2 separate regions of the Homo sapiens genome follow, and region 2 is linked to region 1. Evidence: fine-mapped expression QTL. A gene starts in region 1. The other region holds a variant in brackets. All regions are shown on one strand. Distances are from middle to middle.

Region 1 (5,386 bases):
ACACATTTCTGGTGGGAATATAAAATGGTGCAGCTGCTGTGGAATACATTTCCTCAAAATATTAGACATAGAGTTACTACGTGACTCAGCAGTTCCTAGGTATGTACGCAAGGGAATTGACTTGCACACGAATGTTCATAGCAACATTATTCATTGCTATAGTCTGAATGTGTCCTTCCAAAATTCATGTTTAAACCTAATTTCCTCACGACTGTAATCCCAATACTTTGGGAGGCCAAGGTGGGTGCATCATTTAAGGTCAGGAGTTTGAGACCAGCCTGGCCAACATGGTGAAACCTCCTCTCCACTAAAAATACAAAAATTAGCCAGGCGTGGTGGTGTGTGCCTGTAATCCCAGCTACTCGGGAGGCTGAGGCACAAGAATTGCTTGAAACTGGGAGGTGGAGTCTGCAGTGAGCCAAGATGGCGCCACTGCACTCCAGCAGGGGCAACAGAGTGAGACTCTGTCTAAAAACAACAACAACAACAACAAAAACCTAATCTCTACTGTGGTAGTATTAAGAGTTGAGGCCTTTAGGAGGTGATTAGGTTATAAGGACAGAGCCCTCATGGATGGGATTAGTGCCCTTATAAAAGAGATGTGAAGGAGATTGCTTGCTTCTTCTGTCACAAGAGAATGATGCAAGAAGGTGCCATCTTTGAAGAAGAGAGCAAGTCCTTACCAGACACTAAATCTGCTAGTGCCTTGATCTTGGACTTAACAGCCTCCAGAACTGTGAGCAATACATTTCTGTTGTTTAAAATTACCCTGTCTAAGGTATTTTCTTATAGCAGTTCAAATGGACTAAGACATGTATAATAGCCCCAACTGGAAACAATCCAAATGTCCATCAACTAATGAATGTGTAAACAAAATGTCCACATAATGGAATATTATTCAGCCATAAAAAATGAAGTACTGATACTACAACATGGATGAACTTCAGAAACATTGTACTGGCCAGGCAGGTGGCTCATCCTGTAATCCCAGCACTTTGGGATGCCAAGGTGTGTGGATCGCTTGCCAGGAGTTTGAGACCAGGCTGGGCAGCATGGCAAAATCCCATCTCTACAAAAAATACAAAAATTAGCCAGGTGTGGTGGCACATGCCTATAGTCCCAGCTACTTGGGAGGACTGCTTGAGCCCAGGAGGCAGAGGTTGCAGTGAACCAAGATCATGCCACTGCACTCCAGGATGGGTGACAGAGCAAAACTTCATCTCAAAAACAACAAACAAACAAACATTGTACTAAGTGAAAGGAACCAGTCACAAACGGCCACATATTATATGATTCCATTTATGTGAAATGCTCTGAATAGGCAAATCCTTAGGGACAGAAAATAGATTAGTGGTTGCCAGGGGAGGAAGAAATTGGGAGGCATGAGGTTTCTAGAATTAGACAGTGGTGATGGTTGCACAGTCTTGAAAATGTACTAAAAACCACTGAATTGTTCATTTAACAGGGACAAATTTTATGTATGATGTGTAAATTATGTCTCAATTTCTTAAAAAGTAGATCTGTGTGTTGTCATATATTCTATGTCCAGAAAACTTCTTTACTTTTTACATAAGATAATTTAAAAATTACCAGAGCAGTATATGTCAACTACATTTAAAAAATTACAATAAAGACCTGAATGTTTTTGCTGAAACTCTATATTCTAAAACTGACAAAAAATAGTGTACACAATAGATAACTTCTTTGTCATATTTCTCTATTCAAAATCTTGTGAATATTTGTATTTCTCAATATGTTATTGCCAAAAGATGTATATTTTTATTTTTTGCTGTACTGGCACAAATTTGGGTTACAATGTCTTCTAAAATGTTAAAATAAAAATGGCATTTTTGTTAGTTTCTCATAATAATAGCTTTATGGCTAATTTTGAAAGACCCTATTTGTAAGTTTTCAAAGACACATTTTAAGAATTGGACATTTTTGTATATGTTGCTAAACATTAGCTGGCATGGCTTTAGAATTAAATATTATTATTATATGGAAATTCATGAAGAGACAAATACTGGACAAGTTAAGATAAGGTGAGAAGATGTTTTCAGGGACCAGGACATATAATTTAAATTCAAAAACTTCTGGAAAATATAGAAAAGTATCTGCTTTGCTGCAAAATAAATTTTCCCTAATTTTTTTCAATTTATTTAAGGCAGCAAGATATATATTTTACTCTTAAAATATTTAACTTGTATTGCTATGTTAATAACTTTTCAAAGTACAACTTTTCAATTTTCTAGTATACCAAAGATATTCCTCCTAAATGGGTTTCTTCCTTTTTACTCATTGAAACTAAATGCAGTTCAGTTATTTGATTAGTTGATGCTAGAATTTGACCTGGAGCTTATATAATTAGAAGAGACACTAGTTTTCCTCATTTAAAAGCCTGGTTAGCATACTACGGTCTCGTTTCAGGGGAAGTCAAGCCTCTCTACTGCTTCTTTTTATAACCTTTAAGTTAATTCAGAACCCAGATAAGCCTTGATCTGAGGATGATATAACCACCGCAGGCAACATGGGGTAAGTATGCGCTTTTATATGCTTTAAGGGGCACTGAAAGGGGAAACAATTTTATAAGAGATGAAAACCCATCAATCCTTACCACGTGGTGTACTAATTTAAATCCAATATATGCTAACATTTATTTGAGGTAGGCATTCAAAGAAATAACTTTTATTTAAGAGTTATAACAATTTGTAAAACATTTATTTCCTTGCTTAATTTTTATATTATGTCTTAACTGCGCTTTGCAGGTTATCGATAAACTGGAGACTGAAGTTGTTCTGCATATTAATAAATATAGTTGAAGATGAGTTAAATTTTGAGAGCAGTCTTAAAGAAAGGATGCTAGACAGCGTAAATCTGACATGGACATGCCTCTTTGGGATTAAGAATAATTAAAGAATGAAAAAGATTAGGGATGGAGGGAGATTGGTTTATTCCTTTCTAACACAGAAAAAGAATAGGGGAATCTTCAGCATTCACTCCCCTATGTACAGAACAAAAAACATATCCTGATTGAAAATGTGTACTGATTAATTACATGGGGGCTTTATTGGTGAAACCTAATTCTAAACACTTCATGGGGCTTTGGTGTGTAATGAGAAGAACTGAGTTTCACTTAAACATTGTCTTAAGTGAGAATAGCGTTCTATTATAATTAGTATTGGAATTATGTGAGTTTTTATATGCTGAAATAGTATTCTGAATATGTAGAAATCTCTATATCACCCTTTTATATTTTTAATAGCCCCTTTTAATACAAAATCATATTGCTGTAAATGGAATAGCTATTTCATTGAAGGCTACTTCTGAAGGATTCAACATAATGATCAGAAATGTATCCTAGAGAAAAAAGTTTTTGATGCACATTTATTCTAAACATTTTTCACAAACTGAATTAATTAATGTCTACATTTTTCATAACCATGGGCTCTGGAAATGCAATCTAAACTCATTTGAAAACTCAGAGGCTTTTGAAACAAGATGACCATACTATTGGTTTTTTTTTTTTTCTTTTTTCTTTTCTTTTTTTAGACAAGGTCTCACTTTGTCACCTGGGCTCAAGCAATCCTCCCACCTCAGCCCCCACAGGTAACTGAGACCACAGGTGCACACCACCACACCCGGCTAATTTTTGTATTTTTTGTAGAGATGGGGTTTCGTCATGTTGCTCAGGTTGGTCTTGAACTCCTGATCTCAAGCAGTCCTCCCACTTCAGCCTCCCAAAGTGCTGGGATTACAGGTGTGAGCCACCATGCTCGGCCTTATTGTTAACTTTTTCTTAATTCCCTTTATTTACCTTCCCTTTTCTCTGTGTATAAGGGTGTACTTCAACATAGCAGGCCAGTAATAAACTAAGTAATGTAGATACAAAGATCAACTGATCTTCCTCCTTCCCTTCCTCTCTCCTTTCCTCCCTTCCTCTCTCCCTCTTCCTTCCTTTCTTTTTCTTTAATGACAGCAGTTCTTAACCTTTTCGGTGTCAAGAATTGCTTTTAGAATCTTCAGAAACCAGTCCACCATTTCTGCAAAAAAAAAAGTAAAATCACACAAAATTTTGCATACAATTTCAGAAGATTTACAGGTGACCTGAAACCCTATTCCTGGGACCACAGGTTAAGACCCTTAGACTTTGATTTTAGGACTGGAGTATGATTTGTTCAATATTTCTCTTTGTTTGGATTTTTATAAATGTAAGAATCTTTAAATTCATAATTCTTGCTAATCTTCTCAAGGACAGTGTGGAAGATTCCCCACCCGCCCCCCACACAATTTACATGAGTGTGAAACACAGTTTAACCAACATGCATCACATTACTGCTGCTGGGCCCCAAGGACTTGACTAATCACTTGTGCCTTTTGAGAGTGCCAGGAATCACCTTGGGAGTCATGGAAGGAAAAAAAACCCTCATTATGTTATTTGTAAAGCACTTTGAATGCCCCAAATAAGATGAACGAAACAAATCATAAATGCTAATATTACAGAGAGCACTCTTCTGATTGGTATGTTCATGATTATTTTGTTGTCTGTTCATGCCTTTACTGACAAAAAGACAGGGTAGTAAGTATTAACATCTGTTTGAGTCTTCCTAAAATAATCAGAAAAATAAAGAAAAAGTGGCAGCTAATCGGATTCTCAAATTTATCCATTTGAGGAAATCTCTAGAATTTATTTCCTGAGAATGAGGGAGTAGCTGTTTTGGATTTGTCTTTGGGGCCTACTTATCTCAAATGATTTGAGGATATAATTCCCTTATATGGGGCAATGCCAGCCCTTTCCACCTTTCCCCAGGCTATGCTGGCATGGTTTTAGCAAGCAATGAAGAAGCAAATACTGGAAAATTCTTATGCTCTCTAAAAAAATCTCCTCCTCGTAATTTTCACTGGGTTTTTTATGGAGTGTGTGAGTAGGTGGGGTGGGTAGAGATGATGCCTAAAGGTGGGTAAACAGATAACTGGGGAAAAGTAGAAAAACCTAACTGACATCTGCTAAGTACCATAACACCCGGGCAAAGGATGAACAATGGGAAAGAAAGGATGGTTGTATTTCTTTTTTGAGACATTTTAAAATGTGCTTTCCCCATCTCCTAGCAGAGTTAGTCAGTGCACCCCCAATTGACAAAAACAAAAGTTAAGGCTCTGCTAAAATTGTAGAACCAAGTTCATTATTATAGCATATTCAGCCTCCTTTTAGTCTCCTGGTTCAAATAAGTTAGAGTAATTTTAAAAATTATCTTATGACATATTTCCTCCTTCTGAATCTGAGAGTGACTATCCAACTCTTTTTCTTGGGTGAAGCATACATTTGGCTCATGGAGCAACCTTTGAAATGTCGCTTCTATCTGTGCCCTCCTTTCCTTTCTAAGAGTCA
Region 2 (5,386 bases), 76 kb before region 1:
TTTCTTATTGGTGAGTTCTTAGATATACAGTCAGATATATCTCCTTTTCCTTTTTGGTTTAGCCTCAAAACTATATTGTCACCTAAAACTTCTTATACCACATTTATGTTCTTTGTTTCTACATTTTAAGTCTCCAAATGATTTTTCCCCACATTCTTTTTCTTTTTTCTTTTTTTAGAGACAGGGTTTTGCCATGTTGCCCAGGCTGGTCTCAAACTCCTGAGCTCAAGCAATCCGCCCACCTCAGCCTCCCAAAGTGCTTGGATTATAGGCATGAGCCAATGCTCCTGGCCCCCACATTCTTTTTTAAATAATCTTTTTATTTTGAAATAATTATAGACTCACAGGAAGCGGCAAAATAGTACAGAGTTCCTTGTACCCTTCACCCAGCTTCCACCAACGGTAAGACCTTACATTACTAGAGTATAATATAAAAACCAGTAAATCTATATCCAAATGACTTTTTTCCCTTTCATAACCACACTACAAAGCACAAACAATTTTTTAAAAGTACATTTCAAATGGTTTGAAAAGCATACAAATGCTAAGCAGAAAATGAGCCATAAATCAGTCAGATGTTAACTGAGGATTTAATAAAAAAAGTTAAGGCTTTGAAAAATGATTCAGTATTCTGCCAAATTGAAACTCTCTGGGGGAAAATGGTGCCTTGTTAGGGATGGATAATCAAAACTCAGGTAAAAGTCCAAGAGCACACTCAAGTAGGGTTTCCAGAAGGCTGGCCACAGGTGGTCTTATGGCAAAGCACTGATTTTTTATTTTTATTTGAGACGGAGTTTCGCTCTAGTCGCCTAGGCTGGAGTGCAATGGTATGATCTCGCCTCACCACAACCTCTGCCTCCCGGGTTTAAGCGATTCTCCTGCCTCAGCCTCCTGAGTAGCTGGGATTACAGGCATGCACCACCACGCCTGGCTAATTTTGTATTTTTAGTAGAGATGGGGTTTCTCCATATTGGTCAGGCTGGCCTCGAACTCCTGACCTCAGGCGATCCGCCCGCCTCGGCCTCCCAAAGTGCTTGGATTACAGGCGTGAGCCATCGTGCCTGTCCCTTATTTACTTGTTTGTTTGTTTGTTTGTTTTTGAGACAGAGTCTCGGTCTGTGGCCCAGGCTGGGGTACAGTGGCATGGTCTTGGCTTACTGCAACCTCCGCCTCCTGAGTTCAAGCAATTCTCCCGCCTCAGCCTCCTGAGTAGCTGGGATTACAGGCATGCACCACCACACCCAGCTAATTTTTGTATTTTTAGTAGATACAGGGTTTCACCATGTTAGCCAGGAGGGTCTTAAACTCCTGACTTCGTGATCTGCCCAACTCGGCTTCCCAAAGTGTTGGGATTACAGGCGTGAGCCACCATGCCTGGCTATTTTACTTTTTGTTCAGAGTAGAGAGTGTAAGATAAACTGTAGTTGAATCAAGTTTCCAACTAACATAGAAAGTTAGTTATATATAGGTTGGCCGACTGACATTTATGTCTATTTTAATTTTTGGAATATCATATGTCAGAAGGATTAAAAATTTTATACAATAAATGTGTTATTGAATAATGTATCCAAACAGATTTTGGGAACTGAAGGATTGAAAATGTATACTAAGTTTTTTTTTTTTGAGATGGAGTCTCCATCTGTCACCCAGGCTGGAGTGCAGTGGCGCAATCTCGGCTCATTGCAAGCTCCGACTCCCGGGTTCATGCCATTCTCCTGCCTCAGCCTCCCGAGTAGCTGGGACTACAGGTGCCCGCCACCATGCCTGGCTAATTTTTTTTGTATTTTTAGTAGAGATGGGGTTTCACCGTGTTAGCCAGGATGGTCTCGATCTCCTGACCTCGTGATCCGCCCGCCTCGGCCTCCCAAAGTGCTGGGATTACAGGCGTGAGCCACCGCACCCGGCCGAAAATGTATACTAAGTTTAAAAGGGTGTGCGTGTGTGCACACATGCGTATATATCTCTTTAAGATGATTAATATGCACATCTTAACTTACATCACTTGGCTACAAATCAAACAAAAAATGGAAAGATCTAGGAAAAATGTTTTGTTACCTGCACTACATTTGGATACAAAGCAGCACACAGCATTGCTGATATCAGCTTGGGGTTCTCAGCATTTGAGTTTGCCTATGAGAAAAGCACAGCATTAATTAACAAGTGATATGGCTATTTCTTTTTTTTCTTTTTGAGATGGAGTCTTGCTCTGTCACCCAGGCAAGTGTGCAGTGGCGCCATCTCAGCTTACTGCAACCTCCGCCTCCCAGGTTCAAGCGATTCTCCTGCCTCAGCCTCCCGAGTAGCTGGGATTACAGGCATACACCGCTATGCCCGGTTAATTTTTGTATTTTTAGTAGAGACAAGGTTTCACCATGTTGGCCAGGCTGGTCTCCAACTCTGGACCTCAAGCAATCTGCCCACCTCAGCCTCTCAAAGTACTGAGATTACAGGCGTGAGCCACTGCGTCTGGCTCTAATATGGCTATTTCTGTCTGTGCTGTAGGATTTACCGTTTTATTATATTTGATCTCTATCTTAAAGCAAAAAAAAGAGCACCTAATTTCTATCTCTTTGCTAGAAAAATTATTTCTAAGTAAAAAAACAAATCTACTGGACCACAGTCACATTGGACCCACTCCAAGGAGCCTACAATGACTTTCTAGACCTTTGCAAAGCGTTACAAAGCCAGTGTTCCTGAGTATAAATGGAGAAAAAAATTATGGTTCATGAGATGTTCAGAATCTCCAGAAAGTGCTAACTGCACTCGGAACACAGGAGCATCAGGTTCATCTTACAGAAGTGCTCTTCCTATAGTTATAGAAAAAGCTGTCTTTTGTTAGAAAAAATGCTGGCCTGATTTGAGAAAATTCTACTGGAAGTCTATTCTATCTCTTATGAATTTATCAAGAAGCAGCATGAAATTTAAAAACCAAAAACAACAGCAACAATGAGCAGAAAACCCTGTTTTTTTTTTTGAGACAGAGTTTCGCTCTTGCTGCCCAGGCTGGAGTGCAATGGCGC[G/A]ATCTCGGCTCACCGCAACTTCCACCTCCCGGGTTCAAGCGATTCTCCTGCCTCAGCCTCCCGAGTAGCTGGGATTACAGGCATGTGCTACCATGCCTGGATAATTGTGTATTTTTAGTAAAGACAGGGTTTCTCCATGTTGGGCAGGCTGGTCTCGAGCTCCTGACCTTGAGTGATCTGCCCACCTTGGCCTCCCAAAGTGCTGGGATTACAGGCATGAGCCACCGTGCCCAGCCCCCTCTATTCTTATGAGTGTTAGCTGACACTTAAAAAAATTTTTTTATACTTTTTTTTTTTTTGAGACAGGGTTTGGCTCTGTTGCCCAGGCTAGAGTGCAGTGTCTCAATCTTAGCCCACTGCAACCTCTGCTTCCTGGGATCACATCATTCTCCCACCTCACCCTCCCACATAGCTGGGAAGACAGGTGGTACACCACCATGCCTGGCTAATTTTTTTGTAGAGAGATGAGGGATTTCACCATGTTGCTCTGGCTGGTCTCGAACTCCTGAGCTCAAGCAATCCACCTGCCTCAGCCTCCCAAAGTGTTGGGATTATAGGCACGAGCCACCGTGCCAGATCAGCTGATATTTATTTGTGCGAAGCAGAAAATCAAGAATGCCATTAACCCACTGCTCAAAGGCTTAAGTGAAGAAGAATGTCTACAAGTGTTCCCAGGTTAAGATTGTATTTAGGTGCTAATTAAAGAGAAATGAGAACCAACTCCACATTCTTTACCTCTTCTCCTGTGGCATCTAAGACACCATCTCCTCCTTGGGCCCTTTTCTCAATTTCCCTTGCTCTGAGCCCTTCCCTTGCAAACCCTATATCCGATAACAGTTCCGTGAATTGTCGTTTGAGGCTGGCCATTTCCTGAAAGAAGTGGAAAAACCTTTAAGCAAGGGCATCAGCATAACAAAGTGTTAAGTCTTACAAAAATGAGTGATTATAAAAATGCATTATTTCAGGGGGTAGCAATGAGGCTCAAGTGGATTCATTCCTCAGGTATGAAGAGGATCTTGTCTGGTCATTTCCAAGAAGCAGCTTTCACTTACGCAAACTGGCAGGCAAACTGAAACGGTTATGCAGAAATGCAAAAATTCAATAAATCCAAGGATCATTTATTTAACTCTAGATTACAATTTTAAACACTCTCATTGGATTTTGGGTAGGCCTGATTTTCCACGAAATTCTTAGGACAGCAAAAAATGCTGTTTGTTTTGACTGGAATTCCAACTCCAAGTGCTGCGGCACTGTCTACTACCTAGCTTTTCCTACTTGCATTTTTGCTCCTGTCCTCTCAGTTCCTTACTCAGGCCTAGAGTGGTTCGTGCTCTCAGTGGAACTCAGCAGAATGTTTCCTCTTTCTCCTTCATTATGGTCTTGCTGGCTCATCTCTTTTCCTAGGAATAGGGACATCATTAAGTGATTCAATATTTTTTTTTTTTTTGAGACAGAGTCTTGCTCTGTCATCCAGGCTGGAGTGCAGTGGCGCAATCTTGGCTTTCTGCAACCTCTGCCTCCTGGGTTCAAGTGATTCTCTTGCCTTAACCTCCCGAGTAGCTGGGGCTACAGGTGTGTGCCACCACGCCCAGCCAATTTTTGTATTTTTAGTAGAGACGGAGGTTTCACCATGTTGGCCAGGCTGCTCTCGAACTCCTGATCTCAGGTGATCCGCCCACCTTGGCCTCCCAAAGCGCTGAGATTACAGGCATGAGCCACCACGCCCGGCCATGGTTTAAGATTGAGATGCTCCTTTTAGTGGCTGAGCACAAATGTGAGAAAGAAAGCACAAACTTCTTTTTCTTGTGGCTACTGTTCTCACATAGGCTGCACATCAGACAAAGAGAAGGAAATAATAATCATTCAAGGAACTGAAAGCTAAGCAACACTACCCTGTCTCTCAATGATGGTTTAAGTATTTTCTTGGAATGTCTCAAGTATACATGGATAACTAGAATATAATTAGGAGTTAAATATACCGCAGTTTCTATTTCATGACAAAGTTTTAATTGAAATCTTAATAAAAACAATCCTACAATCTAAGTTGAAGTTTAGTGAAAAGATGCAACTCTTGTTTGATGGACCTCATAAGTCACAGCAAAATCTACACATATCCTAATGAAAAAAAAATTTAGTAGGAAATGTAATTTAAAAGAAATATCCTCATCTTATATTTAAGCATCTTAATGACTTGAGAAAATATTTCTTATTGCCCTGTACATATAAACACAGCCCCCCACCCACTTTTGATTAGTGATTCTCAGCCTCCAAAGTAGCTGGGACCACAGGCGTGCACCATCACGCCTGGCTAATTTTTATATTTTTTTGTAGAGATGGGGTTTCGCCATGTTGCCCGGGCTGGTCTC

Which allele goes with the higher level. Alleles are on the strand shown, and positions count from the first base shown. SD is a standard deviation of normalised expression in the study named.
With allele A in place of G in region 2, the expression in prostate of the gene that starts at base 2,421 in region 1 is lower (moderate effect, 0.59 SD a copy in GTEx).

Evidence for each region. PIP is the estimated chance that this variant, and not a neighbour inherited with it, causes the effect. A credible set is the group of variants that fine-mapping cannot tell apart.
Region 2: its variant is the best candidate, but not a certain one, in a credible set for the expression of ARHGEF33 in prostate (GTEx, PIP 0.83).

Annotation. Positions count from the first base shown.
Region 1 is chr2:38,887,455-38,892,840 of GRCh38, forward strand. ARHGEF33 (Rho guanine nucleotide exchange factor 33) reads left to right here and starts at 2,421. Exons shown (of 18, transcript NM_001145451.5): 1 at 2,421-2,532.
Region 2 is chr2:38,811,766-38,817,151 of GRCh38, forward strand. It overlaps DHX57 (DExH-box helicase 57), which reads right to left. Exons shown (of 24, transcript NM_198963.3): 20 at 3,756-3,890; 21 at 2,056-2,130. Among named protein-coding and RNA genes, the nearest start is that of GEMIN6, 36 kb to the left of the region's middle. The variant G/A (reference allele first, on the strand shown) is at 3,021.